4 linked regions of the Homo sapiens genome follow. The protein of the gene in region 3 interacts with the protein of the main gene of each other region in a biochemical or structural test. Each region holds a gene or a part of one and is shown on either strand. Other genes may lie near its edges. The genes, in order: CYFIP1, NCKAP1, NYAP2 and WASF1.

Region 1 (7,027 bases), on a different chromosome or scaffold from region 3:
GGAAGACACGTTCCCATCTTGAGGGAGGATCCCAAGTTGGCACCTCCCCGCTTTAGGCTTAGGCGCATTGTGCCCGCCTTCCGGCCCGCCTGGTCCCCGCTTTAGGCTTAGGCACATTGTGCCCGCCCTCCGGCCTGCCTGGTCCCCGGGGGGAATCCGCGGCCCTCCCACTGTTGCTCTGTGCTCTGCTGAGCGTCATTTCTCCTGCTGTTTTCAAGATCTGTTTTCCTTTATCTTTAGTGTTCAGCAGTTTGACCGTGATGTGTCTGGGTGTGGATTTCTTGTTTGTCTTGTTTGGGATCCATAGAGCTTCTTGAATCTGTAGACAAAAGACTTTCTCCAAATTTAGGGTGTTTTCTGTCATTTTTTTCAGCTGTTTTTCATCACTGCTTGGTTTCCCCTTTTCCTTTTGCACTCTCATGGCACAGATGTTAGACCTTCTCTCTTGTCCTGAAGATCCCCAAAATTTTTTCAATCTTTTTTTCTCTCTGGTATTCAGATTAGAAAACTTAACATTGCTCTATCTTCAAGTTCACTGAATCTTTCCTGAGGTTTTTTTTTTTTTTTACATTTCAGTAGTGTGTCTTTTAGTTTTGAAATTTCCATTTGGTTCTTCTTTATATCTTGTTTTGTTTGCCTTTTGCTGATTTCCATTTTTTCATTCAGTTTGGGAGTGTTACAATCGTTAGAGCATTTCATAGCACAGTAGTTGCTTTAAAGTCGGGTGGATAATTGCAGCACCTGTGTTATTTTGGCATCTGTTGATTCTCTTTTCCTGTAGGAGCCCATACGTTCCTCGTTCTTTGTGTGCTGAGTAATCTGGGCTGTAAGTGGATGGTTGGATGTTATGATATGAGATCTGGGTCTTGTTAAAATCCTAGGAGGATGTTGATATTTTTATTTTAGAAAGCAAACACCCTGAGGAGACTTGGGCTGTGGTTCTGACTTGCCTTCAGTGGGTGGCAGCTCCATGTCAATTCTGGCTTCACAGCCTCCTGCACTGCCACTTGGACCTGCCCCCTGTGTGCCGCTGGTGGCTGTCTGGCTGTGGTCTCAGGGTTTGGGGTGTGAAGAGGATCAGATCCACACCCCTGCAGCTTGAGGATGGGCTTGAAGCTCATGAGCAATTTTGTCGGCTGGCTCTTCTGAGCTGCTTCCTCTCCACACTGCCACTGGGGCTTCCTGGGTCCCTGGAGAGCTTCCCTTCTCCACCCTCAGCCAGTGCAGTGGGACTGACTACCCGTTCCACTGTGCACCTCCATGCCTGCGCCAGTGCTGGAGGAGGGATTTGGGGCTCCTTCTGTTCAGTGTCTCCTCCAGGCCACCTGCTGCTCTTTCCTTCATAGAATGTGGCTCAGCTGCCCCTGGTCCCATCCCAGGGCAGAGCTCCTCCTGAGTACCCTTGAGACTGGAGCAGATTCAGCAGAAGGCAGATTGCCCCCTCTCCCTGGAGCTGGCTCTGAAGGTGTGTTTAGACGATGTCTGCCTTCATTTCTGCACCTCTGCTCCAGCTGCGGTGTGGCACTTTCTGTCCCCTGCGGCAGCCCCATACTCCTTGCAATCTCAGCCTGTCTGTGCAGCTAGACAGCTGGTGTTGGGCGGCAGGGCGCTCGTCTTTTCCATGTCAGGCCCTAGTGTGTTTGGAGGCACCACCTGGGAGGTGGCTGCATTTAGGGAGGCTCTGCTGGGCAGATGTGGCATTGGAGAGGTGCTGCCCCTCCAGCACTTTGAGGGGGTCGTCAGACCCTCGAGAGAGTCCTCAGCACCAGCAACTCAGGACGGCGGCCCCCATGGTGGGAAGGATGGCAGGAACCATGTGCCCCATACTGTGACCCTCCTGGAGGCCAGGAGAGCCTGTTCTCAGCGAGTGTGGAAGGATAAGCTGCACAGGGCCTCCCAGCCTGCTGGCCCACGTGCCCTGAGAGAGACACGCAACTCCCAAGGACTGATCATGCCCCTGTCAGCCATGTCCGGTGCCCTCGGGAGAGCGGGAAGGGGTTAGAGGCCTGGGTACCCAACCTCGAAGCTTGTTGGGTGTCCCCTCCTTCTCCTCACAGAACAGGGGTCCTTATGTGTTGTTCCAGCCCAGGATGGCGGCCCAGGTGACTCTGGAGGACGCGCTGTCCAACGTGGACCTCCTGGAGGAGCTGCCCCTGCCCGACCAGCAGCCCTGCATCGAGCCCCCGCCATCCTCGCTGCTCTACCAGGTGGGTGCCCAGCAGCTGCAGGGCGTACAGCCTGTGCTCCGACCCCACATGATGTTTTTCTCTTCCTTTCCTTCAGCCAAATTTCAACACTAACTTTGAAGACAGAAATGCATTTGTTACTGGCATCGCAAGATACATTGAACAAGCCACCGTCCACTCTAGCATGGTAATGTTGCGGTGTGTCTTTGTTTCTCTCTGCAGAGAAGGGCGTGTTTGAAGGACAGATGTATACTTTTTGGTATTATCCCAATAGACTATGCAGTGAGGAAAAAGAGAAGAAAATGAATGAAATGCCTTATATTTTTAAGACAGTCTTTGCTTTTCTTAGTGTAAAAACAATACATGCTGGTTCTGAAAATTCAATGTCTCTGGCCCAGAGAAAACCTTTGTCAGCGTTTCAAGGGTGCACCTGCCCTGTTAATGCTCATTCCCTCTCCAGATCTGCACCCACACACACCAGGTATGTGCCCATATGAGATTTAGATTTATAAATGAATTGCATTGTTATTATAGTTCTGCTTTTTTTTTGAGACAGAGTCTTGCTCTGCCACCCAGGCTGGAGTACAGTGGCGCGATCTTGGTTCACTGCAACCTCCGCCTCCCAGGTTCAAGCAGTTCTTGTGCCTCAGCCTCCCGAGTAGCTGGGACTACTGGCGCCCACCACTACGCCCAGCTAATTTGTGCATTTTTAGTAGAGACAGGGTTTCACCATGTTGGTCGGGCTGGTCTCGAATTCCTGACCTCAAGTGATCTGCCCACCTTAGCCTCCCAAAGTGCTGGGATTACAGGCATGAGCCACCACACCTAGCTAGTTCTGCATTTTAATGGTCTCATCAACAGGTTTTCTTTCTTTCTTTTTTTTTTTTGAGATGGTCTCACTCAGGTTGCCCAGGCTAGAGTGCAGTGGTGTGATTAGGGCTCACTGCAGCCTCAACCTCCCGGGTTCAAGCAATCCTCCCACCTCTGCCTCCTGAGTAGCTGGGACTACAGGCACACACCACCATGCCCATCTACTTTTTTGTGTTTTTTGTAGAGGCGAGGTCTCACCATGTTGCCCAGGTTGGTCTTGAATTCCTGGACTCAAGGAATCCGCCTGCCCAGCCTCCCAAAGTACTGGGATTACAGCCTGAGCCACTGCACCTGGACAAGAATATTTTCATGCCATGAAAATGTGCTAGAGAAAGCAATCCTTAATGGCTACGTAAACCATTTTGTAAATGTCCACAATTCAACTATTTTTGCGCATTGACTTCCTCTTTTATGTCGTGTAATAAAAAAATGCTGTAGGCTGGGCGCAGTGGCCCACGCCTGTAATCCCAGCATTTTGGGAGGCCAAAGTGGGCGGATCACCTAGGGTCAGGAGTTCGAGACCAGCCTGGCCAACATGGTGAAACCCTGTCTCTACAAAAAAAAAAAAATACAAAAATTAACCAGGCATGGTGGTGCGCACACCTGTAATCCCAGCTACTCAGGAGGCTGAGGCAAGAGAATTGCTTGAACCCGGGAGGCAGAGGTTGCAGTGAGCTGAGATCGTGCCACTGCACTCCAGCCTGGGGGACAGAGCAAGACTCGTCTCAAAAAAAAAAAAAAATACTGTGATGAACGTCTCACTAAATAAAGGCTAGATTTAAGAGCATCTATTTGATTTTTTCCAAAGGAAACGATGTTAAAGAGTGGAAAGCAAAAGCAGTTTTACAGCAGTGATGACAGTCCTCTTCCCATGGACTCTCTACCTAGATTTTAAGTGCTGTGGGCGTGCTCCTAACTTTTCCTCCTGCACACCCGGGGCTGGCAGCCCTGCCTCTAGTCCTCTCTGGGACCGGGAGGCCCTGTGAGCCAGTGAGGAGGCCATGGGGATCCTGTGTGTGCTCACACCGGGCAGGGCGTCTGCCCTGAGCCCTTCCTCTGTGTTCCTAACTGCAGGTCTCATGGCCAGCAGGTTGTTGAGGGCTGGGTGGAGCCAAGGTGTAACGCCTGTGGCACCCCTCAGAGATGCCTGCGTGTCACTGACACCCCTCTCGCCTGCAGAAGCCATGGGGTGTTTTGGGTGGTCATTGTGGCCCCCAGCGCCGCACCTCAGTGTCACTAGCTTCTGGCAGCCGTCTCTTGGCACACAGGCCACAGTGCTTAGGATAGTTTGTGGCGCTTTGTCTGGATTTTAGCAACTGGCATCTGCTTTTCATGCTAGTTCCCCCGCCTGCCTTTGATTTGCCCTGTGTTCCATTGCAGAACGAGATGCTGGAGGAGGGCCAAGAATATGCTGTCATGCTGTACACCTGGAGGAGCTGCTCCCGGGCCATCCCACAGGTGCCACGCTCGCCTGGCTCTTCCCCTCCAGCCACACCCTGCCAGGCCCCTGCCACACCACACCCCTGCCCCTGCCATGCCTGGCCCACTCTCCTCCCAGTTCTCACCCCACAGCAGGGCGGGATCACTAGCTCTAGAAGCCCAGCGGCTGCTTCTGGCTGGATCAAAGCCTCTTATGTCATCCTTGTTCCTTTATTCCCAGGTGAAATGTAACGAGCAGCCTAACAGAGTGGAAATCTACGAGAAAACCGTGGAGGTTCTGGAGCCTGAGGTCACAAAACTGATGAATTTCATGTACTTCCAGGTAAAATGGCAAATAATCTGGGGGGGGTGTAACACCGAGGGGTGGGTTGCTGACCCCTTCCTACCCATCACTGTCACTGTGAACACCCTGAACAGAGTGCCTGCAAATTAAAGCAACCAGTTTCTGAGACAAAAGGGACCAAGCCTTTGACAGTCTAAAGTTCCTCATGCCCTTTCGGAATCAACGCTCCTTTTGTGGTTCACTTCTCTTCTCTGAGAGTGATTTTATGTTTCCTTCATGGAGCCTGCTTTCTGTCAGTTTCAAGTACAATGCTTTGACTTTTTGCCAGTTTGTACTTTTTTTTTTTTTTTTTTTTTTTGAGACAGAGTCTTGCTTTGTCGCCCTGGCTAGAGTGCAATGGCATGATCTCGGCTCACTGCAACCTCTGCCTCCCAGGTTCAAGCGATTCTCCTGCCTCAGCTTCCTGAGTAGCTGGGATTACAGGTGCCCGCCACCACGCCCAGCTAATTTTTGTATTTTTAGTGGAGACAGGGTTTCACCATGTTGGCCAAGCTGGTTTTGAACTCCTGACCTCAGATGATCTGCCCATCTTGGCCTCCCAAAATGCTGAGATTACAGGTGTGAGCCACCACGCCTGGCCAATTTGTACTTTTGTTTTCGTCTGCTCTTTCAGGTATTTTCTTGCTGTTAGCCTCACCCTGACTGTCCATTCCTGGTGGTCCTCGCCCTGGCCTTGGTTAGGCAAGAAGTAGCCACATGGAAGGGGCTTGCTGCTTTTTAAAGAAGTATTTTGGAAACATCCAGATTTTTTATGATGATGTCCTTCAGCAAAGGGAGGAGATGGAACTAACTGGGAGATGAATTTTTGTTTTACCTTGAAAGTTACCAAGAGGAAAAAAATCTCTCCCAGTTTTCACTTCTGAAAGTTAGAACATCTGAATTTTACAGGCGTTTTATTGGAGCATTTTGCTCAGTAATTTTGCTGGAATAATCAGCAAGATTTTGTTACTTTAGTGATGTAGTTGGTAAAGTGCAAGTCAAGTAATGATGGTGCAGAGCAGGCAGTGGGAGCTGCTTTCAGGAAGGGGTCTGGTTGCCCACATTGTAAACACTTCGGCCTGGAGCCTCACTGGGCAGATCGTTTCTCATCGAGGAGCAGTGACTGCAGGTGCTTGAAGGAGGGACATGGGCTTGGCTCCTCACTGACCTGCAGCTTTCTGCCCTCCTGCTTCCTCTGCACAGAGAAATGCCATTGAGCGTTTCTGCGGGGAAGTGAGGCGCCTGTGCCATGCCGAGAGGAGGAAGGACTTCGTGTCAGAAGCCTACCTGATCACACTGGGCAAATTCATCAACATGTTCGCTGTGCTGGACGAGCTGAAGAACATGAAGTGCAGTGTGAAGAACGACCACTCAGCGTACAAGAGGTGAGCACCCACCTCGCGCACTGCGGGCCCTCCCGAGAGCACCCAGCTCAGTGGCCTGCCTTGTGCACAGCAGGTGTGCGTCTTTGTTTGCTGAAGTCGTCACTTCTGGTAGGCAGCAGCTACGTCTCAGTGTCAGGGCTGTGTGAGCACCTGCTTCGAGGGATAAGGTGAGGGGAGCCAGCAGATAAGTGCATATCGTGGCTTTGCACAGCTAGAGCAGGCTCTTCGTGCCCTGGCTGTCCTCAGATGTCACAGAGGACCTTCGAGCCCCTGGGAAGACAGACATGCACAAGATGTAGGCCTAGCTCACAGAGCACAGGCATCTGGCTCAGGGAGCATCTTGGCAAGGGGGCAGGTGGCCTCTGCAGCCTACCTTGGGCGTTGGGGCTGCAGTCCTCGGTGCCGGTCACTCGCCAGCGGGGGTCCCCAGCACATGAGCACCATCCCAGCAATGTGCAGACGTGGCCCGTGCACAGTCACAGGGTGTCTCGTGGTCACACTGCGCTTCCAGATCCTCTCCCTGGTGGTTTTCTTTCTGGATGTAGAGAGCTTCTGGAGAAGCTAGCCTCTGGAGAGGCTGGCAAGACGAGCGGAAGAGGCAGGCATGGCCCAGTGTGTGCTTCTGGAGCAGTGTGGGGCAGTGGGTGGCCGATGGGCATTTGGTGACACTCGGCGCGCTGCCGACCGGCGTTCGGTGACACTTGGCACGCTGCCGACCGGCGTTTGGTGACACTTGGCACGCTGTCTCCTGATGCTCTTGCTCTGCTTCATCTGTGCTCAGTGCTTTTGAAGACATGTTTTGCTGGAATGAGATGCTAATTTCA
Region 2 (7,027 bases), about 43 Mb from region 3:
GTGGGTGGATCTCTTGAGGTCAGGAGTTCGAGACCAGCCTGGCCAACACGGTGAAACACCGTCTCTACTAAAAATACAAAAATAAGCCAGGCTTGGTGGTGCGTGCCTGTAGTCCCAGCTACTTCGGAGGTGGAAGTTGCAGTGAGTTGAGATTGTGCCACTGTACTGCAGCCTGGGCAACACAGTGAGACTCCATCTCAAAAAAAAAAAAAAAACAAACAAACAAAAACTAAAATATCAAGACTCAAGTAACCACCAAAAAGCTTTTACGAAGAAAATGTTTATTTTAAAACATGATTTCTCTATTCTGCTTGTAAGTTCAAAAGTTTTGGTGGCCCAAGTTCAAATTCTTTCAAAAACTACATAGTTATTATATATACAGATTCGTTTAATATAAATCACCGTAGCTGTAGGATATTTCTAAAAGGCTAATAAAAAGGTATTTAAAATGTTGTTGCTTCAGTTCCTTTACATCTTTACTGAAACATTAAGCATTCTGAAGGCATTTTTCATTCAACTTAGAGGGCATAAGATAATTTAAAAGATTACCTAAGAAAAAGCAATAAGCCCAGTAATTTTTGTATTATAATCTATGGAAAGCAAATACATTCAAACCGCAAGTGTGAACAAATTGTTAACTTTGGCTGGAATTTTGAAGCTGGTATTTCAAAGAAAACATCATGATTCAATACTATGAAGGCCTGACCACAAGCCAAAGACTCTGAGGTTCTGTCCCCTTTACCAAGTCAATTCACCTATTTTCGCTTTCCATTTTCTCACCTACAAAATAGAGAAAACTAAACTAAGATGCCATAAAAAGGCCTTGCTAGCTATTTAATTTTCATTTTCATATTAGTACTTTCATGTTGGATTAAAATAATTAACATTGTAGGCTTGTTGCTCATATCCCTGAAATGTTTTTCAGGAATTAATGTTTAAAAGCTAAAATTAATAAAGACTATATTACCTTAAGTTCAGCAACTTGTGATGAAATATGCCACATAAGGCTTTCACTTAGAAACTTCATACCATATGGGCCTAGTAGTTCTGATAATGACCTCATTTCTGAAAGAAAACATACTTAATTTTATACTTCCGACAGAGCAAATACTTTAAGAAAATGAACATTAACACAATACAACATCTCATTATAAAAACTAATGTAAAATCCTGATAAAAGTCTCTAGAGTGAAAGAGAGAATACAAAATGCAAAAGTAATTCTAAGATACAATATGCAGTTACGCATATAATTGAATGAAATAGTCACAACAGAATCAAAAGTCTAAAGAATCAAGACACTAGCAAAAGAATTAAGTGTTCTTCATTCTCTAAACTGTGGTATAGTACTATTCACCTGATATGTCAGAATATTCCTCTGCATTGAATGTTAATTCATTTTCTGTAGGTAAGTTCACAAACGCTTTCATTGCAGGAAAATATGCTATATGGCCATTGCTGACTTGTCGTAACAAAGTTTCCAAATACCTAAGGAGAAACGTAAACTTATAACCGGAAGAAACTGCTTAATTCAGAATGTATCATGATATACATTCCTGCATATAATTTTAAGTTGACTGATAATATGAATAAGTACTTATTCACAAAAAAATTAATTTTCCTAAGTACTTCATTACAAATTTTCCGCTACTACAAATTTCTAAATGCATTCCTTACCAATTTGTGTATAGACTTGTAATGGTTGGCTCTCCATGACTGTCTAAATGTTGTGTTTGTTGAAGAAGCACATTATTAAATACTCTTGTAATATCAATCTGCACATAGTTTTCTATTGACTGGAGTACGGTCATGTATGCTCTTACACTTGTTAGAAGTTCTGAAGGTTTTGCAATTTCCTGTGTGGCTTGATTATACATAGTCATCCCAACAATTGACCTGGGAAGAAGGGATAGAAGAATAAGAAAAGCCTCTGACTTTTCCATTCATGTAAAATAAACCACTCAACCTACTGTTATCTAATATTAAACAAGCAATAAAATTAACTTTAAAAATAATTTATTACAAAGCTGTAAAATTACTGTCATTATCTTCCCAGGAAACAGCGTAAAAAAAGAATGAAGGCCGGGCATGGTGGTTCACGCCTATTGTAATCCCAGCATTTTGGGAGGACGAGGCGGGCAGATGACTTGAAGTCAGGAGTTCGAGACCATCCTGGCCAACATGGTGAATCCTTGTCTCCACTAAAAATACAAAAATTAGCTGGGCCTGGCACATGCCTGTAATCCTGGCTACTTGGGAGGTTGAGACAGGAGAATCGCTTGAACCCAGCAGGCAGAGGTTGCAGTGAGCTGAGATTGCACCACTGCACTCCAGCCTGGGCAACAGAGTGAGACTGTCTTAAAAAAAAAAGAAAAAAGAAAACTTAAAAACTACAACGAAATGTGAATAAAATGATTAAAAACATTCTAAGTATACCAGTAACAAAAGTGATTTAAGTATAAAGAGGGTTTTACAAATTGCTTTAACATGGTAAGTTGTTTGTAGCAAGGACAGTGAACTATTTAGTCTACAGCTTGAATTTATTTGACACTGTTAGGTGCCAGTAGTTTTTGAGGCTTTATATAAATTACCTACAATCCTCACATTTAATAAACACCTACAATGTACTTATCACTATATCTCCCAGAGGAAAAAAATAAAGCTCAGGACTCACATAAATTGATAAGGTTTTGTTGGGAAGTGGTTATGACTAGGATTTGACCGCAGATCTGCCTGACTTAGTGCTGCCTCTAAACAAACTGTATGACAGTCAAACAAAATAAGGCAACAAACAACTTTATTTTCTTTAATCACTCATAGCATATAAAACAGTTCTGTTTATATCTCAAGAAACTGTATACGACTAAAAAGGAAACACAAATTTTGAAAATACTTCCCTAAATGATCTTATCCTACACTGACCACCCCTATTTCACTTTCTTTAAAACTCCCTGAGCATTAGATCTGTAAAGATCTTAGACTTGTATTTGTAAGGATGAATCCTTAAAAGACAACCGACAAATCCCATCACTAGAAACAGGCCAAGAAGAGCCAACGCAAGATGAAAACTGCTATCCTAGTGTATAATCCCTAAGTCCTAAGACTGTGCTCAGTTGATTGACAAAAACCAACCCACTAATATTCACAAGCTATCTGGCTGGCCAATATGGCGAAACCCCGTCTCTACTAAAAATACAAAAATTAACCAGGCACAGTGGCACACGCCTGTAGTCCCAGCTACTCGGGAGGCTGAGGCAGGAGAATTGCTTGAACTTGGGAGATGGAGGTTGCAGTGAGCTGAGATTGTGCCACTGCACTCCAGCCTGGACGAAAGAACAAAACTCCGTCTCAAAATAAATAAATAAATAAATTAAATAAAATAAAAAATCTTTCCAAGGTAAACAAGCTGTTCCCCTTGCCTTGATCCTAATCACTAAGTAGATGTTTGGTTAAAAAAAAAACTGCTTCTCTGTGGATTAACAAAGCAGACTGTTTACAAGGAAAACAAGGGAGCTGTACACTGAACTCTCCCTTCCACCCACCAATGTCCCACCTCTAACCCACTTGAGAATAATAAACACCACAAGGCACAATGCCCCTTTGGTCTAAGTTCTAGGGCATTCTGGGTTTTACTGTCAGGATGCCTGACTTACTAAGGAGAACAAAAGACAGTTCATCACCAGACTCTTCTCAAGTCAACTGATAATTTAACACTCAACTTAGTGCCACTTTATATACTGTCATATTCTGTTCTCTAATTCTTTTAGTCATCTCACCAGCTACAGTTCTATCTTTATCTCATTATTACCTAGAGTACTTAACACATTGTTAAGCATATAGTGCAAATACAAACACCACCTGTTAATGACTACAGAAACTTTGAAAACCTTTTGGCAAAATTTTGTTTTATAAATTGCTTCAAGGCTTTGAAGAAAAAAATTGTCAAATAAATAAAAATTTTCATGAATAAATATTAATAAATAAGGATGTAACTTCAGAAAAAGGTTAAAACAATATATATAAAGTTGAAAGGTTTCTGACTTATCAATGCACTATTTCATATACATACATAAAATATATATTCATATATAACAGGAAATTCTAATTAGAATTGAGAATTCAAGAATCTAGAATTCTATTGGCTTATTTAACAGCAACATGTGAATTCAGAAAACATGTAAGGGTTCATCTAGTCCTCAGGTCTTCAAACATTTTACTGTGACCTACTGCATGACACGCATCTTAACACTGCAAGTCAATACACATGCATACATGTAACTGAAACATTTCACGAAGCAATATATATATTTAATGCACACAGTGTACTGGGTTTTTTTTCCTATTTTTTCTTCCTCTTGTCCTTTCTTTCCCTCCCACTTTTCTCTAAACTTTGACTACAACCTAATAAACTGATTTCATGAACCTACTGGGTTGCCACCTGCAAGATGAAATACATTGATTTGCTCCAATATTCTCACTTTGTATATAAGGAAGCTATGACTCAGAGATATTAACTGGTTTGCCTGGTGTTACTAGTTAATACTAATAGGTATGAGAAAAGAATCTGGGTATCTTCAGTAATTTTCAGTTCACTATTCTTTGCATTTCCCAGTTCATTATTCTTGAGACAGAGTCTTGTTCTGTCACCCAGGCTGGAGTGCAGTGGCATGATCTTGGCTCACTGCAAGTGTGTCTCCCGGGTTCACGCCATTATCTTGCCTCAGCCTCCCGAGTAGCTGGGACTACAGGTGCCCACCACCACGCCCAGCTAATTTTTTGTATTTTTAGTAGAGACGGGGTTTCACTGTGTTAGCCAGGATGGTCTCGATCTCCTGACCTCGTGATCTGCCCACCTCGGCCTCCCAAAGTGCTGGGATTATAGGCGTGAGCCACCACGCCCGGCCCGGTTCATTATTCTTAACACTAATCCAGTTCTACTAATGCTTTTCCTTATAAAACACTGTATAATTAAATAACAAACTCATTACTGAGTCAACAAACAAAAACAGTCAATATTCTTTCTTACTTGGTAAAGCGTATTTCCAGATGAGAAGTCAAATATTCTCGTGGGGTAAAGGTATGTTCCCATACCACCATGTTTGGTACATAATTTATAGAGAAGCATAACTCAGAAAGTGCAGTGTGCAATTTATCAAGGCTGAAAAAAATTAATAAACAGTTAAAATGTTCACATGTCATCACAGGCAATACAAAATTAATTTTATAAATATATCAACCTTATTTGGAGATAATGCTTAGAGAATTCGACTTTTTATTCTCCTAAACTGAGAAAGTTCAAAATCTTTAAGGTTATAACTAACACATAAGAGCAATATTCTAAAGATGGCGTCATTTGTTTCTACCTTTAGGTAGTAATGAATATACTGACTTAATATACAAAGGTAGAGCTTATTCTGCACTCATAAAGATAATCACGCCCAATTCCTGAAGTACTTTCTGTTATGAGAGAAGGAAAGTTGTCTATAAAAGGGCAATGGCTTGCTCAATTTAGCAAGAAAGTAGGAACTATACTTTAAACAAAAAATATTTACCGAATTATTACCCACCTACACCTCCCCTCCAAACAATGAAGCAAGCAAAGATCCCTGAATGCTACCTGGTCTGTTATTTCTGTTTTATAATAATGACATTGGGTATGTTCTAATATATCAAAAACATGCCAAAATAAAGTCTCCACTATCTAACTTTAAATAAATTAAAAATTACAGATTGCTTATAATGTAACACACAAAATTTTTTAAACATATAATTGGCCTTCAGTACTTAGTATAAAAAGACAAATATCAACTATTACATATATTTTCTTCTAAAGGCCAAAATCTGTATTTTGAGATGAAATAAGCAACTAACAGGTTAATTAAGCTCAGAAATATTTTTTAAAATGGCTGGAAAATGAAGAATATACAATTATTAGCATTTCCTCAGTACTAATGTCAATAGAAAAAAATGAAATAAATATTTTACCTGGAGCAAAAAGGTATAATATAAGTGGATACTTACTTGGTCACAACCAGCCTGTTTTTCCTCATGCTCTCAACACCTGGTTTCTCCCTTTCAGGTTCCCCTTTCTTACCAGTCTGCTTTTTTGATTTCTTATTCACTGCTTGACTGATAGTTTTGGCACAATGCTTGGGTAGCAACTAAATTTAGAAAAGAATGAAATCTTACATTACACCAATTACTCTGAAAGCATACTAACTATTCAAGCAAACAGTAGCTGAATCCAGGCTGTGTTGCAAATATCACAACAATATTAAAAGACAGAAATATAAGTGAGATACAGAGCTTACTTAGCTAGCTTGGGTAATGCACATAGCTTGGTGAAAACAGAAACGGGTAGATCTTGGGTAAATCTTGTGTGAAGAAACACGTCATAGAGTAAATTCATAGACGCTTATTTAAATTACTATTAAAAAGACAAGTAAAAACATACCAGGCAAGCAAGGAATGAAAAAGAATATTTCACTGGAAGGATTAAATGGCCTTTGGAAAAAAACTGTGTAAAGATATGATGGTTCAGAGCTGTAGTTAGAACTACTATGTGGTGGAGCATAACGTGTAAGGTAAAGTACAGAGGTTTCAACTATTAGGAAGGGCCTTGAATGCCAAGCTAGAGGTTGGATTGTAAACTGCAGGCAAAAAGACAGCGACAATTTTTTAAAATAGCCACAGCATGAGGAGACATTTTCTTTTCTTTTCTTTTCTTTTGAGAAGGAGTTTCACTCTTGTTGCCCAGGCTGGAATGCAATGGCACAATCTCAGCTCACTGCAACCTCTGCCTCCTGGGTTCTCCTGCCTCAGCCTCCTGAGCTGCTGGGACTACAGTCGACTGCCACCACACCCAGCTAATTTTATTTGTATATTTTTAGTAGAGATGGGGTTTCGCCATGTTGGCCAGGCTGGTCTCGAACTCCTGACCTCAGGAGATCCACCTGCCTCGGCCTCCCAAAGTGCTGGGATTACAAGCGTGAGCCACCATGCCTGGCCATGAAGAGGTAATTTTCTAAG
Region 3 (7,027 bases):
TTGCTATGTAAAGATCTCAATGTGCCTGTGCAATGAGCTGAATGTTTGTGCTCCCCAAATTAGAATGTTGAAAACTTAATCCCATAATGATTGTATGTGGAGGTAGAAAGGGAAGGAGAGCAGTGCTTTCAGGAATAGGATTAGCATCCTCCTACGAAGAGGCCAGGGAGGCCTTTCTGCCCTTTGAGGATACAAGGAGAAGTCGGCAGTCTGCAACCAGGAAGTGGGCCCCAACAGAGCTCTCAGGCTTCCAGCCTCCAGAACTGTGAGAAATAAATTGCTGTTGCTTATATGCCACCCAGGCTATGGTGTTTTGTTATAGCAGCCCCAAATGACCAAGATAGCTTGTGTCAAGGCACACTTAAGGCTACTTTCCCACCATGGAATTCTCAGGAGTAACTCAGGGAAGCTGAGACTCTACTAAATTCAGTAAGGCCTAAAGAGCTGGTGAGATCTAGTGTTAATATGACCTAATTTATATTCATAGACCAGCAAGGAGGCTGGGATATATTTGACTTGTATGTTTCATAGCTGAGAAAAAACACAGGCAGATAAAGGTAAAAATTGGAGATATTAAGGAGAGTTTAAGATTATAGTATGCACACACATACACACATAAATACATAAATTCATATTCATTGGAAGGAAATTCACCAAAACATTAAAAATGATTATAAGCTTTTTCTTGATATTTTCCTGAATTAAAATGTCCCCTTGATAATCAAATAATAATACCTTTAATTGTATAAATAGTATAAGAAAATATAACTTTTAGATATATTTCTGGGCAGAATAATTTTTGAATAATTTGAAGCTTTAAAGGATTAAAAAACTCATATATTGCCTACCCTTTCTGAACTATCAGAAATACATTCTTCTGGAAATTTGACAACACATCAATAAATAACCTTCCCCTCAATTCTTCTTTTCTGGGACTTCAGGGTGAGAGGCAGGATTATGTGGCCCAGTGAAGAAGGCACTTGCCCCTGGGCATGCTGACCTGAACATACTATCTGAAAGAGATTTCTAGGTGACATGGACATGGCGTGTTTTACCTTCAGTCCTCTCAGGGGTTTTCCCGCTCTTACTGGCTGCAGTGCTGCTGACTGTCTCTGATGAGGTGCTCAGCTTGGTGCTGGGGTCCCTCTTGGGTTTGGGTGGTGGTTGTCTCCGTGAGCCACAGCTGCTGTCATCGTCTGTGCCCCCAACCGAGTGCAGGGACTGTGATCTCACAGAAAAGCCACTGGAGCAAGGATGGGGAAGTCTGTCCTGAGGAGCAGGCATTGTCATGAATCCCATGCGGAAATGTTTGCCCACGTAACTTCCTTCGTGGCCTCGCCCTACTTCTCCACCTATGCTGTAAAAGAAAGCAGACCAAAAACCATGAAGACAAAAGGAGCCAGGATATACAAGATCATACATGTGAGAATATTACTAATAGGGAAAATTTCAAATCTTCATTTTAGTCCGGTGAAATGCTGCCTTTTAAAACAAACTCAAGTAGCATGAAAGCATTCTAACTTTTGTGTTAAATTTTGTTTTCCCCAAAGGAAAGAAAAAATACTGCATAGAACACTTATCTTCAATCACTTTATATTTACTTTAGGTAAATCTTATCAGTGGCTTAAAATGTAAACAAGAATTCCATGACTATGACTCAGATTCATTTTGACGTGCAATTCAGTCCTAGTGGTCAGCACTTGAGACTCTTGTCCACTTCATCAAAACCATTCCTGCTTTTATCTGCTTAATATATTGGAGAAAATGAAACAAAAAACAATAATAAATGTTCTGTTACGAAAGAAAGAAAGAAAAAGAAAGGAAAGGAAAGGAAGGAAGGAAGGAAGGAAGGAAGGAAGGAAGGAAGGAAGGAAGAAAGAAAGAAAGAAAGAGAGAGAGAGAGAGAGAAAGAAAGAAAAGAAAGAGAGGGAGGGAGGGAAAGAGGGAAAAAGAGAAAAAGAGAAAGAAAGAAGAAAGAAAAACGAAAAAAGGAAGGAAGAGAAAGAAAGAAAAGAAAAAAGAAAAAGCAAAGCAAGACAAGCAAAGCAAGACAAGCAAAGAAAGATGGGAGGAAGGGAGGGAGGAAGGAAGGAAGGAGAAAAAGTAAAAAGCAAAGGAGAGGAAGGGAAAGGAAAGGGGAAGGCAGGAAAGGAAAGGAAGGAGGGAAGAAGGAAGGAAGGAGGGAAGGAAAAAGAGAAGAGAAGAAGAAAGGAGGAAAGGCAGGGAGGGAAGGAGGAAGGAAGGAGGAAGAAAGGAGGGAGGGAGGAGAAAATATTTGCTTAAATTGGTGAAGGTATTGCCAACCACTCTCAATCCTCCAGAATCTTCAGTTACATTAGAAACAGTCCTACTAAGAAATCAGACACACAAAATAAAACAGCAACATTGAGTAAAGAAGTGCAGCTTAAATATCGTTTGATCCTGAGATGATTCTAATACTTCATAAATATTCAGTGTATGCAAAGTTTCCAAATTTAAGGTTCTTAAGTTTTACATAGGAAAGTTTGAACAAAAATATTAAAATATAAGAAATCCCCTCTAATTTTGGAACTCAAGCAATTATTTAGGAAATGACTCTTGGGCCTCTGTCTATGCTATTAAGTAATAGTGACTCCTTTATGAAAAGAAGGGACACAAATGTGAATGTAAACTTTTAAAAGGAAGATTTTTCTAGAGTTTCTTTTTATCTATGAAGTTCATTCACCAAGAGTAAACACAATTTTTTAAAAATACCATTACAAAATTTTTGACTAATTTTCTTAGATATGTTTGAATGGTAAGAAGTACCTCTGAGTATATGAAGTTTGGAAGCTTGCTGAGTCTACCTTCCCAGACATGTAAGTTTATTCAGATCTTCATTTAGTAAAACTAATTTTGGCTGGCTCTGCCTTCATAATATGATGGAATTTTATATCTTTCATATCGTTACAATGTTTGTTATGATTTTAACATTCCAGTAGGAACAATAATGAAAAATGAGATTTTCTTTTCCTCCTTCAACTGGGGACTTATGACAATTACATGTCCTTTGGGGATACAGACAAGAAGAATTTAACAAGAACATTAGATTCTTGATTCTGACCTTTAACACCAATGATAACTTGCCACTCAACCCAAAATATTTTATATGTATTTTTTTCTGAATATTTTCAACTGATACTCAGACACTAAGCACGGAGTACCATCTTTGCAATAAAGGTGGCTGGAATTTCAGTGCACTAAAAATCAACAGTATCCAGAAGCATGAATGGAGTCCAAGTGATGGCTAAGGGGCAGTGTTGACATCATAGCCGAAAGTATCCTAAGTCAGTGCAGTGTTTTTATGTGTTTTATCCTCTCTCTCTCTCTCTCTCTGTGTGTGTGTGTGTGTGTGTGTGTGTGTGTGTGTGTGTGTGTGTGTTTTAAAGAACGGCAATTAAGACATACATTAGAAGCTTATCCAAACAGAGTGGTTTGTGAAAAATGAAGAATATGAGAAAGGATGGGATAGTGGACGTGAGGGGCAGTCTTGGTATAGGAAGGTCTGTCTTCAGTTTGTGATGGTTGTGGTTTTGATCTTTCTCATAGATGATATACTTGATGTAATCTAACTTTGCTTTCAATTATTTTTCATCCTAATGTCTTTTGTTCATTTCTGTTTCATCACAGCACAAAAGGTGCTTTAAGGATTTATTTAGCCAGTCATCCCATTTCTGGTAACACAGCCAGCTGGGGAAATTTATGCATGTGTTAATGCACATGGGCATTTATGAGTTACTAAAAATAATTCTATCAGCAATTTCTCAGTTACTTTTGACCTAAATGGAGCCTGAACTTTTTCCCGGACTGACAATTTAGTCTGCTTCATTTCAGAATTATCTTTTTTAACAGCATACAACAACTTAATCTAACTCTATCTGCTTTGGTTCATATATGCCTTTTACACACACACACACACACACACACACAAACACATTAACATTTCTTTCAAGAGAAATTCAATGCATGCTTCAAGCACTAGCAGGTACCACTGCAAGTTTAGTTTGACCAGGCTGTAAATACAAGATGAAGAAATAGGACAAAAACAAATTTGGATGCGAAGACCATTGTTCAAGTCAAGGCTAGGGACAAACAGTAAAGGTGATGGCACATCTAGGTTCAAGAGACCCAGAAAGGTTATTAGCCCAAAACAAATTGAAGATTGTGAAATGCAGCATACAACTAGTTTCTGAATTTGCTAGGAACATGTGGAGTTTTTTAAATATACAGATTCCCAGACTCCATATGAAGGGCAATGATTGAATCATACCTGTTGAATCAGAATCTCTGTGGGTGTAGAAGATGAATTTGTGTTTTTAAAACTATATCCAGATGTTTCTGATGTAGCTAATCCAGAACCCCCCCAGAAATATTAAGAACAATAGTTAGGGCCATTAATGAGTAGATATATCAATTAGAAGCAATCAGGAAGAGGTAAATACTAAGCAAAATATCACGAATGAGAAAACATACAACCTATTAGCCAAATCTTATTAGGTTATCCTGCAGTAACAAACAATCCCCAATCCCTAATGTTTTTTAATGATATAGGTTTGTTTCTTGCTTGTATGAATGCACATCAACTGTGGCTCTGTTTCACATATATTCTTCACCCCAGGATGTAGCCCCATTGGGACTTTTTCTCCTGGCAGAGAAGGAAAAACACCAACTAACTTATATGTCTCTCCTGGCTTCTGCTCAGATGTGGCTTATAATCTTTCCATCACTCTCCACTGACTAAAACCAATCTTATGGTCAAGCTTGAGGTCAGTGGCCTGGGGACTTATTCTCCTCCAATAAATACTGCAAGTCATATGGCAATATATGGGGATGCATATTCCTTGTACAGGTAGGAGATCAAATACCTGGCAGCTGTGATGGTATGCAACTGAGATCTCTTAAGAGAGCACTTGCCATGAGGAATGAAGTTAATTGACGAGACAACAATGAACCATTGAGCACTTTATGTTTCCGATCCCTATAACTCTGGACTCTACAGAGTTAAAAGGTCCAGGTCCCCAAAGAGGCACACTCTTTCTAGAAGACACAGGAAGTGTCCCATTGAACAACAACTTATAGCTGCCCCTTCAGCAATTTGAACACCCCTTGTGTAGTGGGTAACGGGCAACAAGAAGCTGATCATGGTGGTGTGCACCTGTTTCCCAGACACTCTGGAGACTGAGGTGGGAGGTTTGCTTGAGCCCAGGAGTTCAGGGCTGCAGTGGGCTATGATCATGCCACTGCACCACTCCAGCCTGGGCAACAAAGAAAGACCCTAGCTCTAAAACAAAGAAACAAACAAAACAGAAGTGTCATTGCCATTGTGGAAGATATCCCTGATCCTGGTCAGCAGGAGGTAAGGCTGATTTTATGCAATGGGGCAGAGAGAAGTATGTGTGAAACCAAGGTTATCCACTTGGGTGCCTCTTGATACTGTCTTGGCCAAATGTGACTTTGAAAGGTCATACGCAGCAACCCTGGCCCAGAAAGGTTATGGTTACTAAGGACTCCAACTTCTCACGAATGAGAGATTAGTCTCTCCACCAAGTAAGCCACTGAGACAAGTGGAAGTGTTTCCTGAAGGTGGGGTGAATTTAGGATGAATGATGGAGGAGGGAGATGACGAGAACCAGTCGTAGCTCCCATACAAACTGCGGTGATGAGGGCTATAGTTTATCTCACTAACTGCACCCTTCCAAGTTTCCCCTCAAGAAGAGCCAGAAGAGAGCTAGGAGAGAACTGTTCCCAAAGCCTGCAGGAGAAGGACATCAGCTGAGTCTAGGGAGTGAACTGTGGCAGCCATGGAGGTGTGTGGCTCAGAAGTCCCTCAACAGAGAACCTCCTCTGAGGATAGCAGTCAGCTGCCAGCTGCCGTCTTCCAAATCTGGTGCAGCATTTTAGTTGAGGCTATGTTGTCCATGGGCAGCTCCTAGACAATGGATGAGCACAATGAGGTATTACACCTGATTACTTCTTCCCAGATTCAGGCAACCTTTATGGCTGGCTTTCCCTGTTGCACTGGTCAAGACCTTCCTTCTCATCACTGCATCACAGTCTGATGATCTTCCTATTCAATTGCTTTTCCTCCCCCTCTCCTTCTACAGGTGCTAGACCTGCATTGTGATCTCAGACTTGTCCTACCTCTTCTGCTTCCTCCTTCTTTATCTCTCACAGGCATTCTTCCCAATAAACCTCCCAGACTTCTAACTCTGTCATGGTGTCTGCTTCCTGGGAGACCTGAACTGACATACTTGGGAACAATTCCTCCGGCATTCAGAAACCAAAGAAGCAGGGAAAGAGAAGGCATCACGACAAATGGAAGACCCCAGAAATAAGGAATGCCTGTGAAAATAGGTCATTCTCCTGCTTCAGACTGAGCATTTAAATGAGGCTTGAGGAGTTAGAAGCTAACTTCACTATAGGAATATTTGGCTGGAAGTGAAAGTTATGTGGGCTAAAGAAAGAGTCTTGTTGCAATAAGACTCCAACACTCAAGATAGATTAAGCCTGACACATCTCATGTTATAAAAATAAAAACAAGTTTCATAATCCTGAATTTAAACAAGTATGCTTTTTCTCATATAATGAAGGCAATGTTGTGAGATCTACTTGTCTGTTGGTTAGTTATTCCATTACAAAACACAAAGTGTAAAATATTATCTAAATCAAGGAGGGTTATTTTTCCAGAAGTAATTGATGCAATGTTTGTAAATATCTCCACCAAACAAATTATTGGCTAGTAGACAGGCCTGGACATTTGTGCACTGGAATCATGGAGTTATAGACTATCCCAGAGCCATTATTTAGCAGCTGTATAACATTAGCTACTGAATCCCTGGGGCCATTTCCTTAGCTGTTTAATAGCGGCATTGGCCCCGTCAAACTGGTATCAAATTTACCTGATATACTGCATATGAAGCATTTAGCAGTCTGATATATAAAATGCAGTCAATAATTTTAGCCATAAAATTCCTACATTTAAGTCTTTTCCCACTGAATTTTGCTTATA
Region 4 (7,027 bases), on a different chromosome or scaffold from region 3:
ACAGAATTGGAAAAAACTACTTTAAAGTTCATATGGAACAAAAAAAGAGCCTGCATAGCCAAGACAATCCTAAGCCAAAAGAACAAAGCTGGAGGCATCACGCTACATGACTTCAAACTACACTACAAGGCTACAGTAACCAAAACAGCATGGTACTGGTACCAAAACAGAGATATAGACCAATGGAACAGAACAGAGCCCTCAGAAATAACACCACACATCTACAACCATCTGATCTTTGACAAACCTGACAAAAACAAGAAATGGGGAAAGGATTCCCTATTTAATAAATGGTGCTGGGAAAACTGGCTAGCCATATGAAGAAAGCTGAAACTAGATCCCTTCTTTACACCGTATACAAAAATTAACTCAAGATGGATTAAAGATTTAAATGTAAGACCTAACACCATAAAAACCCTAGAAGAAAACCTAGGCAATACCATTCAGGACATAGGCATGGGCAAACACTTCATGACTAAAACACCAAAAGCAATGGCAAGAAAGCCAAAATAGACACATGGGATCTAAATAAACTAAAGAGCCTCTGCACAGCAAAAGCAACTACCATCAGAGTGAACAGGCAACCTACAGAATGGGAGAAAATCCTTGCAATCTACCCATCTGACAAAGGCTTAATATCCAGAATCTACAAAGAACTTAAACAAATTTATAAGAAAAAAAACAACCCGATCAAAAAGTGGACAAAGGATATGAACAGGCACTTCCCAAAAGAAGACATTTACACAGCCAACAGACATATGAAAAAATGCTCATCATCCCTGGTCATCAGAGAAATGCAAATCAAAACCACAAGGAGATACCATCTCATGCCAGTTAGAATGGTGATCATTAAAAAGTCAGGAAACAACAGATGCTGGAGAGGATGTGGAGAAATAGGAACACTTTTACACTATTGGTGAGAGTGTAAGTCAGTTCAACCATTGTGGAAGACAGTGTGGCAATTCCTCAAGGATCTAGAACTAGAAATACCATTTGATCCAGCGATCCCATTACTGGGTACATACCCAAAGGATTATAAATCATGCTACTATAAAGACAAATGCACATGTATGTTTATTGTGGCACTATTTACAATAGTAAAGACTTGGAACCAACCCAAATGTCCATCAATGATAGACTGGATTAAGAAAATGTGGTACATATACACCATGGAATACTATGTAGCCATAAAAAAGGATGAGTTCATGTCCTTTGCAGGGACATGTATAAAGCTGGAAACCATCATTCTAAAAAAACTATCACAAGGTTGGAAAACCAAACACCAGATGTTCTCACTCCTAGGTGGGAATTGAACAACATGAACACATGGACACATGGTGGGGAACATCACATACCCGGGTCTGTCGGAGGGTCGGGGGCTGGGGGAGGGATAGCATTAGGAAAAAATACCTAATGTAAATGACGAGTTGATGGGTGCAGCAAACCACCATGGCACATGTATACCTATGTAACAAACCTGCACACTATGCACATGTACCATAGAACTTAAAGTATCATAATAAATAAGAAAGAAAGTAAAGAAGCAGATCTCCGATTTTAAAAAATGGAATCCAAAAAAAAAAAAAAGAAGACATAGAAGAAGTGGTGTCAGAAAACAAATTGACATTAGAGAATCTGGCAAAAGCGTTCCAATTATTCAAGACTACTTTTGATTTATTTTACAACGTGAACCCTTCTATGATACAGTACCAAAACTAAAGCAAATAAAAGGAGGATTGGTACCATATAAAAACATTTTTAGAGAAATGAAGAAGCAAAAAAGTCAGAAATCAAGATGTGTTTTTGTAAAGTTACACCAGTGTGCCCACCTCTACTACTTCTACCTCCTCCACCTCTCTGCCTCTGCTACTCCTGAGACAGCAAGACAAACTCCTCCTTTTCCTTCTCCTCTTTGGTCTGCTCAATGTGAAGATAACGAGGATGAAGACTTTTATGATGATCCACTTCCAATTAATGAACAGTAAGTATATTTTTTCTTATGGTTTTCTTAATAACATATTCTTTTCTCTAGCTTACCTTATTGTAGGAATACAGTATACTACTACACATACAACATAAAATATACATGTTAAGCAACAGTTTATGTTCTCGGTAAGGCTTCTGGTCAATAGTAGGCTATAGGCAGTTAAGTTTTGGGGGAGTCAAAAGTTATATGCAAATTTCTGGCTTCACTGAGGATCTGTGCCCCTTACCCCTACACTGTTCAAGGGCCAACTGTATTTTAAACTTTAAACCCTATCTAAAGTCACCCAGCCATGACAAAGTGGGGAAAAAAAAAGAGATACCCTGGGAAGCCTGCTTTTAAACCTTGTTCTACTACTTTCTGTTAAATGATTTGTGTCTAAAATGGAAATTACTTGCTTTATCTATATCTGTCCACCTGATGAGGGTTAGAGAAGATTATGATGTAAAGGTATATGCAAATAATATGCCTGTCAATCTGAAAGCATTTATATGTAGACTGTAGCATTTATATATAATCAGCATTTATATATAATCAGCATTTATATTAGCTAGAAATAAATTTTAGGCCAAGTAGCAGAACCCAAGATTCATCAAAGACCTAGAAGATTATCTGTCCCAGGGATGCCCAAGATATAGATTCAGAAATTTAGGAGATCTTTTACACCCTCTTGTTACAACTTCTGAAAAAAAAAAATCATAAATCTAAAATCACTGTATTCCTCTAGTTGTGTAAGTTCTTATTACTGAAAAGAGTAAGCCAAAATAACTTGAAGAAGATCCCTGCCATTACTGAATTTTGAGCAGAGGGAGAACCAGACATTTAAGCAAATATTTAAAGCAATTTAATAGATAAGTCCTAATATTTGTTCTATTCACTGTGAGACCTTGGTATCAATTTCCTTATCTGTAAAATAGGAATAAAAACATCTGTCTCTAAAAGAAGCAAGAAAAGAGCCTTGAAGTGCACCTCATACAGAGGAGCCCAATAACAGGCAGCTCTTAATATAAGGTAAGAGCAACACAGCAGAGATAGAAGCACCTCACTTTCAGGTGTCAAAAGTTATTTGGTGATCAAGATACTTCCAGAGACAGTTTCTCTGGCAGATAAGGGAAGCATCCCAAATGGAAGAAAAAGCAGGTATAAAGTTACTCATTTATTCAACAATTGGTAGGGATACAAATGCTAGGTGTAGATACAGAGATGGAAAAGACTAATCTTGGCAATAAGAACTGACTATATTCCATAAGAGAAAAGCCAGGGGAAGAGATCCCTTAGGTATTCAGAATCCCAGTGGTTGTTAATGAAAGGAGTTAGCTAGCTTGCTTTAGGCAGACAGTAAGGGAAGGGTCCCCAGAGAACCTCTGACCCACCCCACAAGGGCTTACACCAGATGCTTTGTGCAGATAAGGGAACTTGCACAGGGGGCTTGCTTAAACATGCCCACAGCAGACTAAGGGCCTGCATGTGCACTAGGGAAATGTGGTGAAGCCACCAGTAATCTGTGCCTCATACAAATAGGGAACCCAGCCCCATCAGCGTCTCTCTCTCTCTCTCTCTCTCTCTCCTCTCTCTCCTCTCTCTCCTCTCTCTCTCTCTCTCTCTCTCTCTCTCTCTCTCTCTCTATATATATATATATATATATATATATATATATATGCCCTTGTATTCAACTGTGACGGGGCAACCTGGAACCTGCTTTCAGGACCCCTCTCTTGGCTGAGAGCTTTCCTTTCACTTAATAAATTCTACTCCATTCACTCTTAGAGTATCTGTGTGCCTAATTCTTCCTCATCGTGAGACAAGAACCTGGACCTAGCTCAGCTAAGGAGTAAAAAACCTTGCATCATTAAGAAAGCAATAAAATGAGAAAGAGGAAATTGATATAAAGTGAATTATAGGTTTGTGGTAATTACCTAATACAAAACAGAATTATGTTCTACTAGGAAAAATCTCACAAAAAACAGATGTACTGGCTGGGTATGGTGGCTCACACCTGTAATCCCAGCACTTTGGGAGGCCGAGGCGGGTGGATCACTTGAGGCCAGAAGTTCAAGGCCAGCCTGGCCAACATGGCAAAACCCCATTTCTACTAAAAATAATACAAAAATTAGCCAGGCATGATGGCACTCGCCTGTAATCCCAGCGGCTTTGGTGGCTGAGGTACAAGAATTGCTTGAACCTGGGAGGTGGAGTTTGTAGTGAGCCAAGATCGCACCACTGCACTCCAGCCTGGGTGACAGAGCAAGACTCTGTTTCAAAAAAATAAAAAAAGGAAGTACATTTTTGTGAGGAAAAGGTCAGGAAGATATCCAGCCCTGAGCCATGTGGATCCCTGCAGTTTACTTTCATTGCTATATTCTCAAGCACTTTCAGTACTAATAATAGCACCAAAGTGAAAATCTCCATTATCTAGAAACATTTTGGATAGCCAAGTTTTCTAAGTAATTCAGATTTTATTATCTAATACATCAATTGTTATTTTAACTATTTTCGATGGAAACTTGTGAAATGTATTCTAAGCTTCCCTCTTCTTAAATGGAATATAAAATTAAACATAATTTAATTTTTTCTTAGGGACTCACGGGCATGAATTATGAAAATCAAATATTATCCTAGGCCAGAAAACAGCCTTGAAATGTATAAGGATATTTGCTTTACATTAAATGGCTTCTTTCCAGTTTTTATGTTGCATCTTCCCTTACATCACTTTGTCCTTTCCTGTGAACTACCTCCTTTTGGTTGGGTTCAGTGATGCCTCCTTCTAGTATCTCCTCCCATGCTTCCTCCTTTTATCCTCTGAAGCATAACTGTTTGGAAACCACATCATCAAATCTGTTTGAACTATCAAGGTAAAAGTAAACAGGTTTTGAGAGAGGGATCAATTGGTTATTTTATGTGCATGGTCTTTAGTGCATGAGTTTATTTATTCTGGCTATCTAGAGGCCTTTTAAATTTAATTCCAGGTTCTCAACTATGTCAAGTGGGAAAGCTGCCAGAGAAGTTAATTTCAGGGCAGTAAGCTATTGTCACACCTTGCTAGAATATTTTATGGGTTTTCTCTTTGTTTTTGAATCTCTACAAACTGCTTAAACAATGCCTTCCAGGTCTCTGATTCTAAATGTGAAGCACCCAACACCTAATTTAGTTATATTGTTACAAGGTATTTATAATTTTCAGAGTTTCGCTACAGCATAACCATGTGCCTGCTGATAGATGTTGCTTATATGGACTATATAGACTTAAAAATTCCTTAAATTTTCATCTTTAAGTTTTGTAACAAATGGGTTAGTACTGCAAATTATCACCCTTAATCACAATATTAGTTCTAAATTCTATATTGGGTATATACCTAAAATAAGATGCCTGTACTGGATCCACAATTCATTTTAAGAAATATGTTATACAAAATTACTAATGCCATTTCTATGTTCTTAACATGTATTTTAATATTAGCATGCTTATATACTTATGTATGTACATAACATATATAAAACAAATTTTATATGACATCATGTTATACTTGATTCAATCCGTGCTAGGTCACAAAAAATCTGCAAAATATCTTTAAACAATATAGTTAATCATATTTAAACTGGGAACTCTAACACTTTTTTTATTAGCCTCAAGTAAACAATACAATATTTTAGTGATTCACTAACCTGAAAAAAATGACCACTGAATGGAACAAGGAATATACTTAAAATTCAAATAAAATAGCCTTTTATTTATTCTTACTATTTCACAGGCAATGCAAAAATTTAGTACTCTCACAGAGAATATTCAAATGTAACTTTTTATGTTGCTCTCGCTACAGGTATGCCTAAACTTTCTTACCGGAAACAAATTAGATTAACAACCTCTTGTGCTAAGTACTCAATTATAAAAGAAAGGACAAAAGTTAAAAGGAAAAGAAAAGAAAAGCCAAGCCTGCTTATCAGGAGAATTTATATGGCTGATGAGATAAATCTAGGACCACTTGGTGGATATTATCTCTGCCAAGAACACCTTGTTTCACCTTTAAAATGAAATATCAATGTCTTATGAAAAAGCTAATCCTTCAATGCAAAAGACAGACCAGATTTTTTAAATTTTCTAAATAAACTTAGAATAGAAAATAATTTGTTTAATTCCTTAACCAAGTTGCTCTATTCTGTAAATCTGCAATGAGAACATATTGCCTGTCTCCTTCTCCCTAATCTGCCTCTTTCACTGGCCTTTATTCTCTGGCCAACCTGCTTGACTTCTGTCTGCCAGAGGCCAAGTTCATTTGCTGTTTTCACACAATGCTGCATATCAGATTCCTGACTTATATCCTAATGTCTCTTAGACATCCCACTTGACTAGCCTACCCCTCTGACTAATAATGACCCCATACCTCTCACCTTAGATCTTTGCTAATATAAAAATATTTCCCTAAACTAATTAAATATATATATAAAGAGAGGGATACTAGTGTTTGAAAACACAAATAGTTGAGGCCTCTAAACAGAGTAAATAGTGATAATAACCAAGGAAAAGTACAACTCTGGTCCTTTCGCAGATTATATATTTTTAAAACAATCTCAATAATTTTCATTCATCATGTGTTTCTGTTCCTAGAGATTCTGTCCGTATTTTCCTTTCCCAGAAGAAACATCATGCAGAAGAGGTTCTTGTAAAACTCAATAATTATACTCATGTGACTATATTTTTCAGGATAATTTTGTACTCTTCTCACCAAATCATACTCCCAAATTAATCAGAAGCACAACTTCTTAATACGCTAAAGCATAACATTCTGGTTTGTGAGTATATTTTTAATTGATATATACTTACTTAGGCTACTTAGTTGTCTAATTATATTTGCCAAGGAAATATTGGTTACACATTCCAGTTCATTCTTAATGCCTCTAGGCAGTGCTGTGTGGCACAAGTGCCTAGGATCGATGTTTCTTTTCACTAGCGGCATCTTGAGATTAACCTTTGTGCCAGTTCACCTGTAGGAAATCAAAAATAAATTAACAATATTAAATTTCAGCCAACACAGAATGAGACTTTATT

Evidence for each region.
Region 1: the proteins of NYAP2 (region 3) and CYFIP1 form a complex in vitro, tested with the Homo sapiens proteins (one study listed by BioGRID).
Region 2: the proteins of NYAP2 (region 3) and NCKAP1 form a complex in vitro, tested with the Homo sapiens proteins (one study listed by BioGRID).
Region 4: the proteins of NYAP2 (region 3) and WASF1 form a complex in vitro, tested with the Homo sapiens proteins (one study listed by BioGRID).

What each region holds. Positions count from the first base shown.
Region 1 is NC_000015.10:22,942,349-22,949,375, reverse strand, and holds part of CYFIP1 (cytoplasmic FMR1-interacting protein 1), read left to right. Parts: intron 1-1,346; exon of another isoform or gene 1,347-1,465; intron 1,466-2,057; exon of another isoform or gene 2,058-2,084; coding exon of another isoform or gene 2,085-2,090; coding exon 2,091-2,207; intron 2,208-2,283; coding exon 2,284-2,373; intron 2,374-4,436; coding exon 4,437-4,514; intron 4,515-4,716; coding exon 4,717-4,818; intron 4,819-6,021; coding exon 6,022-6,203; intron 6,204-7,027. UniProt on the Homo sapiens protein: Component of the CYFIP1-EIF4E-FMR1 complex which binds to the mRNA cap and mediates translational repression. In the CYFIP1-EIF4E-FMR1 complex this subunit is an adapter between EIF4E and FMR1.
Region 2 is NC_000002.12:182,951,438-182,958,464, forward strand, and holds part of NCKAP1 (nck-associated protein 1), read right to left. Parts: intron 6,160-7,027; coding exon 6,020-6,159; intron 5,157-6,019; coding exon 5,025-5,156; intron 1,895-5,024; coding exon 1,676-1,894; intron 1,487-1,675; coding exon 1,356-1,486; intron 1,066-1,355; coding exon 968-1,065; intron 1-967. UniProt on the Homo sapiens protein: Part of the WAVE complex that regulates lamellipodia formation. The WAVE complex regulates actin filament reorganization via its interaction with the Arp2/3 complex. Actin remodeling activity is regulated by RAC1.
Region 3 is NC_000002.12:225,507,701-225,514,727, reverse strand, and holds part of NYAP2 (neuronal tyrosine-phosphorylated phosphoinositide-3-kinase adapter 2), read right to left. Parts: intron 1,358-7,027; coding exon 1,056-1,357; intron 1-1,055.
Region 4 is NC_000006.12:110,120,667-110,127,693, forward strand, and holds part of WASF1 (actin-binding protein WASF1), read right to left. Parts: intron 6,964-7,027; 5' UTR 6,936-6,963; coding exon 6,803-6,935; intron 1-6,802.